Linked DNA regions of Homo sapiens. The protein of the gene in region 1 interacts with the protein of each later gene in a biochemical or structural test. Each region holds a gene or a part of one and is shown in the gene's direction. Other genes may lie near its edges.

The links.
Region 2: the proteins of TNN (region 1) and TLR4 form a complex in vitro, tested with the Homo sapiens proteins (one study listed by IntAct).

What each region holds. Positions count from the first base shown.
Region 1 is NC_000001.11:175,081,026-175,084,846, forward strand, and holds part of TNN (tenascin-N precursor), read left to right. Parts: intron 1-2,724; coding exon 2,725-2,910; intron 2,911-3,821. UniProt on the Homo sapiens protein: Extracellular matrix protein that seems to be a ligand for ITGA8:ITGB1, ITGAV:ITGB1 and ITGA4:ITGB1. Involved in neurite outgrowth and cell migration in hippocampal explants.
Region 2 is NC_000009.12:117,717,807-117,721,627, forward strand, and holds part of TLR4 (toll-like receptor 4 isoform A precursor), read left to right. Parts: 3' UTR 1-3,821.

The sequences.
Region 1 (3,821 bases):
GAGGGATGCAGGCAGTCCACCGTGTCTCCAAAGAATTCTGTCTCCTGCCCTCTGATCTGCTGGTGATTCCTGCTAGCTGAACCTGGAAGCCAAAGGGTCAGGTAAACAGGCAGACTCAATTCACAGAGATCACAGCCTGGGGTACAGAACAAGATGGAGGATGGTGGAGGCTTGATCTGGAGAAACAGAATCTCCTGTGCACCAGCAAATGCCACCAAAATGTTTAGAAGGATTAGCATCACTGCTTACTCTTTAAACATTCTTGTCTCCTCGTGAACATTCTTAAAGCAGCTTAGATCTTCAAGGATTTGGAGAAACGTAGTTGGTTGAATGACTAACTCATTCCTTCACACAGTACATTTTTATTGAGCACTTACCATTTGTCAGGCACTGTTCTCGGTGCTAAAAATGCACTGCCTCCATCCTGCCCTAAACTTCTAGGGAAAGATCTAGGAAGATACAGATGGATGGAACTTTGGCATGCAGTTGTCTTTGCAGAGACATCAAGCTGCCTGTCCTTTATGGTGGTGGGACTAGGGTGGAGGTGGGGATGGGTCAGTGTTGGAAAGGGCTGTGAGAGACTTGGCCATCATGAGGTCACCATATGTGATTACCTTTGTCAGTGCCCTCAAGCTAAAGACCCCCAGGAGCACCCCTGTAGTTGAACAACTTGGGTGTCTTGATTGTTCTAGCATGGGTGACTGCACACTATGGGGGACCATAGAGGTATCTCAGTAAGACAGCGTTAGAAAGGACTGGTTAGAGAATCTGGGCCTGTGTTAGGTAATTTGGGGGAAGGTGTAAGGAAGCAGGGATTGGGTGCTGTCAAGAAGTGGGGAGAGCCTCTCCCCTCTGAGAGGCTGAAGTTGGTGATTGTAACAGAAGTGGCCATCACTCATAGTAGTCAGGAGAGTGGGTGTTCAGCTATTTGTGTGGTTTGGACAATGGTCATGTTTTTGTCTGTGTTCAGAGTTGATCATGGAAGTGTCTTGTTTTTGTCTTGATCTATGCGGTCACAGAGTGACCTGACATTGATGTCCTGTGAAATGGTTTATGTTCAATAGGAGACACCAAGTCCTCACTGTGGGAGCCAGGCCCATTCTGGCTGGCAGAGTCTGCTTTTCTCTTTTTCCCCATTTTGTCTGTGGCTGCCTCTGGTACAGCTAGCACTGTGTCCAAAGCCTCCCAGTGCAGCACAGAGATGCCTATTCTGAAAGTCCTAGCAACCCCTCATCCATCTTGCTCTCGGGATTTGTAAAATTCTGCAAGTGTGAAGTTTCTCTTTCTTTCTAATCTGATTCAGGTTAAACACATTCTTATTTGCTCCTCAGGGGAGCCTAAGACAAGAGGTACTCATCCCCACCATAATCGTGAACATTCTCATTAAGTCCTTGCTTTTTCATTTGTGATTCCCTCCCAATTCTTTTACACCATGTAGGAACTCTTATATAAGCCTCAAGTCACATTTATTACTCACCTCTTGACCTGGCCTTCAGGGAATTCCATCTTTAATGGGAGTCTAAAAACAGCACCTGGCAGATGGAAGCCAGTGGGTGAGAGGAAAAGCTTCAGAGAAAAGGCTCTGTGAGGCTCTTTATCCATAACTGATTGAATCGGGGACGTTCAGAGCCCAGGGACCTTGAGATCACTGAGTTCACACCTGGCCTGACACTAATTCTCGATCCTTCATCATCCGTCAGTGGTCAGTAGGCCTGGGTGGAGACACCTCCAGGGAGGTGAAGGTGGGGGCGTGACTGATGAAGAGGGGAAGCCTGAGAATTGGAGGGCCTTGGCTTTCCTGTCAAAAACTTAGAAGGCCAGGCTCCCTCAGCCTGGGATATGGCTGTTGGAATTTGAAGTGCTTCTCAAAGACCCTAGTCCTCCCATCCCTAGAAAAGTTCTCCCCTTAGAGCTGTAGCAATGATCCATTCCTTTGTATTAATCACTGTAACTTCATGTTTTTTTTTTTTTCTGAGTAGAAGAGTAAACATTTAGCCGTTAATACTTTACTATGAATAAATGTATACAATAACTCTCTTCCTTCACAGGACAGACAGATTGGGCAGCATGAGAATACCAGGTACCAGATGGAAGTGCTAAAATTGGTAAAAATAGCAGGAAGTACACTCAGATGGACCAAGTTAAAATTCACCTACTTTATAGTTTTGCCTAGGGTTCATCCTTAGAGGAGAATTTGAGAGGCAAGGGCTGCAATTTGGGAGATGGAGGAAGGAGCTTGTTGGATTACCAATGTTGTCCTTGAGAAAGTTTGAAATAGATTCTCTCCACTTTCCGTGGAAGTGCCTGAGCTGCTTATCCTGAGGTCGTCTTAGAGGGCAGGGGCTCTGCAGCTGAAGAGTGGGCCTTTAGTTCAGGGCTGTAGCTGTCAGAGCTCTGGACTGAGTGGTTTGGGTGGCCAACCTGAGAGGTACAGTTTGGGCTTGGCCAAAGTCAGTGTGGACAGGGAAGACCACATGGCCTCTGATGGGATGGGGAAGTGGAGGCTTTCCCAAAAGACAGTCTGCCCATGGAATATGTGAAAACCAGCAGCTTAGTTGCTACTTTGGTAGCTCAAAGACACCTGCTAAGAACTGTGTCCTGGGGCTGAAGCCAGCTCTTGAGATGTCAAGAAAGGGAGCTGACCTGATAACCAACAGCCTGTCACAGAACCTTGGAACCTCTGCTCTTCACCACTTTCTCTTGCCTCCGTCACCCCTGCCCTAGACCTTGCTGTGCTTGGCACTGCCTGGGTGACAGATGAGACTGAGAACTCCCTTGACGTGGAGTGGGAAAACCCCTCAACTGAGGTGGACTACTACAAGCTGCGATATGGCCCCATGACAGGACAGGAGGTAGCTGAGGTCACTGTGCCCAAGAGCAGTGACCCCAAGAGCCGATATGACATCACTGGTAAGAGCCATCACTGGAATGTGAGATGTATGCTGTGGATGCAGAGGTGGGGATAGTGTGTGCAGAGGGCACTGGCATCTGCACTGCTCAAGTGTGCACAGACAGCCCAGGGGCCTTAGGAATCACACTTGAATCTGACCCTTGAATCTGCCAGACATAAGCCCACCTGGGAGGCCTGTAGACTCTGCCCCAGCATTCCAGAGCTCGATCCCAGGGCACCTTGTTAACAGATTATATTTGTGAGATGTTCTCCAAGTCAGCAAACTCTCTTGAAGACCCTGTCTGTGTCTCAGAATGGATTTGATGGTGTATAGATATTCCTTTTGGAGGAACTTTAGTATTTGGGTGTTGGGGACAGGAGGGAACAGAAAGAGAGAGAGAGAGATTGAGATTGGTTTGTTGAGCATGATGCATGGAAGGGGTTGTGTTGGGGGATGTGGAGGGGGGCAGGGTGCAGTGAGCAGGGGTGGCTCTCTGTCTCTGATTTCTGAGCTAATGCTGCCAAGAGCTAGAGCTCAAATGGCTGCTAAGGAAACAAGGCTGCAGGGATGGATCAAGTTTGGCAGTGCTTGAAGTCTGTACAATTCCAGGGCTCTTTTTTAAGAAAAGTAATACGCAATCATGAATACCCAATCAGGTACAAGGCCTTGGAATGGGCCCGTGAAAGTGTGGGGCTTATTAGCTTCATGGTAAATTCCCTCCTGGAGCCTTGTTCTGCTGTCCACTCCTTGAGTTCTGTCTTGACAGGACATTTTGGGGTTCTTAGTGTTTGTGGAGTGCAGAATGAGGGTGTGTGCCTCACACAAGCTTCTGTTTGTCTGCATTTTACCACCACAGTCTGAATATTTGTGCCCAAGGAAAAATAATTCTAGTTGCTTCTACAGAGAAATAACTTTTTTTTAAAAAAAGGG
Region 2 (3,821 bases), on another chromosome or scaffold:
GCCTCCTTCCTATCAGTTCCCTCTCCCAGATGGAAATTCTAGAAATGGCAGGTGAGGTGGACAAGCAGGGAAAGAAATTATATGCATAGAACAGAAGGAGAAGAAAGAGTAAAGTCAGGCCTCAGCCAGCCTCTTTTTAGCTCTTTAAATCCTCTGGATTTAAGAGGGATAAAGGGTGGAATAAGGATAAATTAATGCCAATTGTAATGCCTTAAATTTGTGTGATACCTTACAACTTGAAACATATTCACAAAACTATATATTTGAATATCTCATTAGCTGAGTAAGGTAGCAAATCATAATTAACTTTTTCCATTTTATTGATGGGAAAGCTGAAGTTCAATGAAGTAAATTTTTCAATAGCCCACAGAGTAGGAAAGTGACAAAACCTGAGCCTGGGCCTCCAGGTCACTCAAGGACACTTTCTTTCTTCCACACCCAATTGCTTCATGCTTAAAGTTGGCAAAACAGGAAGTGAAACTCCTGCAGTTTTCTGTGTGGTTGACACTAGCAAGGGTTTCTCAGTTGAAGCCATGAATCATTAAGCCAATACATATGCATATATGTTATACATACCAAATGATTTATTTATAACCCTATCTTTCCATAAAGGACTTGAAGGAGCTTCAAACAAAGGATATGTGAACAATAGGGTTAATCAATAATAAGTAGAAAATCTGGACATAGAATAAAAAGAGGAGAGAAAGACACCGAGAATGAGCGTTAATACAGTGCTTTCCATTTTTCTGGTGTTTTGAGTAGCGTGGCTTTTGGAGAAAGCCAAAACTCAAATTCACTCCTTATCAACTGTGTGCCTTGGGCTCCATTTCTCTGAGAGTCTACTTAGCTCCAATGTAAAATAAGAATAGAACTATGACTTTGTAAGGTTGCTCTAAGGATTGAAAATCATGTATTATGTTCAATACGGGGACACTGTCCTTATGGGTGAGTACTCCCCTAAGACTTTATTAAGAGGGCACTAGGAGAAGCACTGGGAGGTCTTCTCAGTAACAACACTAAAGTAATTGCTATTTTTCCAGCCTGTGGAACCACAGAAGTGACTGTAACTAAAATTAGACATTTCTTTCTGATTCATTCTCTACTCACGGGATTGTCAGACCCCAGTCTTCTTCTGGACTCTATAAACTTTTTAGAAATCATCAGCAGGCTCCTGGAGAAGCTTAAATGAACTCACACAATATGTGACAGTGAACTCCCTGGGAGAGTGAAAACCAAAGTCTAAGCCAGTGTCTCCATTTACTTGTGTGATTGTGGGCAAGTCATTCAAGTGCTTTGAGGCTCAGGTCTTAATTCATGAAATGGAGGTAATAATACCTTGTTGGCAGACCTCACTTGGTTAAAATGATAATGTTGATAGTTACAATAGTTACATTTAATTGATCAATTGTTTTATGCAAGGGCTTTATTTGTGCTATCTCAGTTTGTCACATCAATGAATTAGAAAGATACGAAAGTATTTCCAATTTACAAATGAGGAGTCTGAGTCTGGGAGTCATTCTGTCATGTGTCCACTGTCACCTGCTCATTGGTGGCAGCACTGAGATTAGGATCTAAGTCCACTTCACCGCAGAAGCAGGGCTTCTAAATACTGTTCTATGGCAAGAGCACCCTGCTCTCACAAAATGCATAAAACTTCCTATCTCACCATTATAATTTTGACTGATATTAAACAAAGAGAAGTATTATTATTATTACTTGTTTTTATTTATATTACAGCTGTAAGAGCCAGGAAAAATGTGATCTAAGTTATGTGATCAAAGATTTTTTAACAGTGAACAAATCAGGCCCACTAGATGATGGCCTTTCTTTGAACAACATGCCTAGGGTTGCTCTATCATGTCTACAGTTGGTCTGACTTCCTGACGGGCATCACAGACTTGTGATTAAACACAGAGGTTATGGGGGAAGTTCCAAAAGCTTAGGACTTTCCAGATGGTTGGAATAAGATCACACACTCTGGCTGCCCTTATGGAGATCACCGAACTTTTCAACTCAAAGTAAAATCTGTGGAGTAAATGGTCGATCAAAAGGAACCAACTATATTGAGCACCATGCGTGATCATCTGATCGTTACTGCTACCTTGTGAGTTAAAGGCTACTCTTCTCATTTTAGAAATGAGAAAAGAGATGCCCAGAGAGGACGAGTAACTTGCCTTAGGTCACACAGCTTATATTAATCACAATAACATTTGCCGCACCTTCTGTATTTTTTTTAAGTTGCTAAGCTTTTGGTGCATGTCTGGCACCGTTTTAGTTGTATATTATTTCATTTAATTGTTAAAATGACCTTCTGATGCAGGTATTTGTAGCTTTGCCATTCCACAGATGAAGAAACAGATGAAAGGACTGAATTGTTCAATAGGAAGGAGCAGAATCAGGATATGAACTTGGGTTGGCCTGATTCTTGGGGCTGCATTCTTTCCATAACATAATTGCTTGCTGTGATGTCCTGGGCTACTCTGCCAGGGGTGGTTAGTGGAGTGAATGGAGAATAATTTAGACAAGGTCAGTAACTCCCATGCCATCTAGAAATTAAAAGTTTAAAAGGCAGAGTCTGCAACTCTCCTTGATTTCTACAGAAATAAAGATGATCCCTCCTGTGACAGTGCTAAGTGACAATTCTGAGTGTAAATGCGCTTTTTGGCACAAATTGTCCTGTCCTAATAGTCTTGATTATAATTATAAAATAATGGGTTTCTGAAAGGCTGCAAGCAGTTCTGGGAATGGCAATAAAGGTTTAGAAATGACGTGATGTTTATGAGAGAAGTGTTTTGTTGAAAATTAAACTCACGTTTAGGAGAAAGGATTGTGTTGTATGCTCCTAGGAAACTATCTCACTATGTAATTAAATCAAAACCAGCCAGTTACCAATTTGAGCTCTTGACTCATACTAACAACACCCCATTTCCCATGGGCCAAGCAAGGCAGGACTGACCTGAAATAACCCAGCCTGACTCTATCCACAGCCACCCCAGGACCTTGCCCCTCCGTCTTCCTAGGGCTCGGCCGTGAGATGCTAGTGCATGACCCTTCCTCTTCCTGGGACTGTCCTTGTCTTTCCCTTTGGACTCTGGGAGGTCTGTTCTCCTCCTCAGAAAGGAATAAACACTCTTTCTATTTGTGGGATTCCCTAGGAGACACTATATAAAAATATAGAGTTAAAAAAACTATTTAAAAAAAAGACAACTTCATGTCTCTACTCTGACTTCATTCTTTTTAAGATGGGTAACAAAGACTCTCTTCAAGGTTAGAAAATTTTATTTTAATTTTTATAGATTTAGAGAGTGCAAATGCAGTTTTGTTACATGAATATATTGCATAATGGTTTAGTCTGGGCTGTTAGCGTAACCATCAACTGAACAGTGTACTTTGTACCTATTAGGTACTTTCTCATCCCTTAACCCCTTCCCACCTTTCTGAGTCCTCAATGTCTGTTATTTCATTCTCCATGTCCATGTCTACAAATTATTTAGTTTCCACTCATAAGTGAGAGCATGGATGGAACTGGAGAAGAGTATTTTCTATCCCAAGATCGGTTCCTTGATCTTGTGTCTCCAAATCACTTGCTCTCTCTCTTACATCTTTTCTATCTTCTTCTAGCCTCTTTTTGCAAACTTCATTTTGACAAAGAATTCCAGGCAGTCTACAGCTGATTTTATTTCAATACAACGATTAAAATGGAAACCATATATGAAGATGACAAAGTTGAGCAGGTCCCAAACTCTCACTTTTAAACAAATGCTTGGCTTAAGAATCACTTAATGACTTTCATTCTGCTATCTATGTGTCTGTGTATCTAG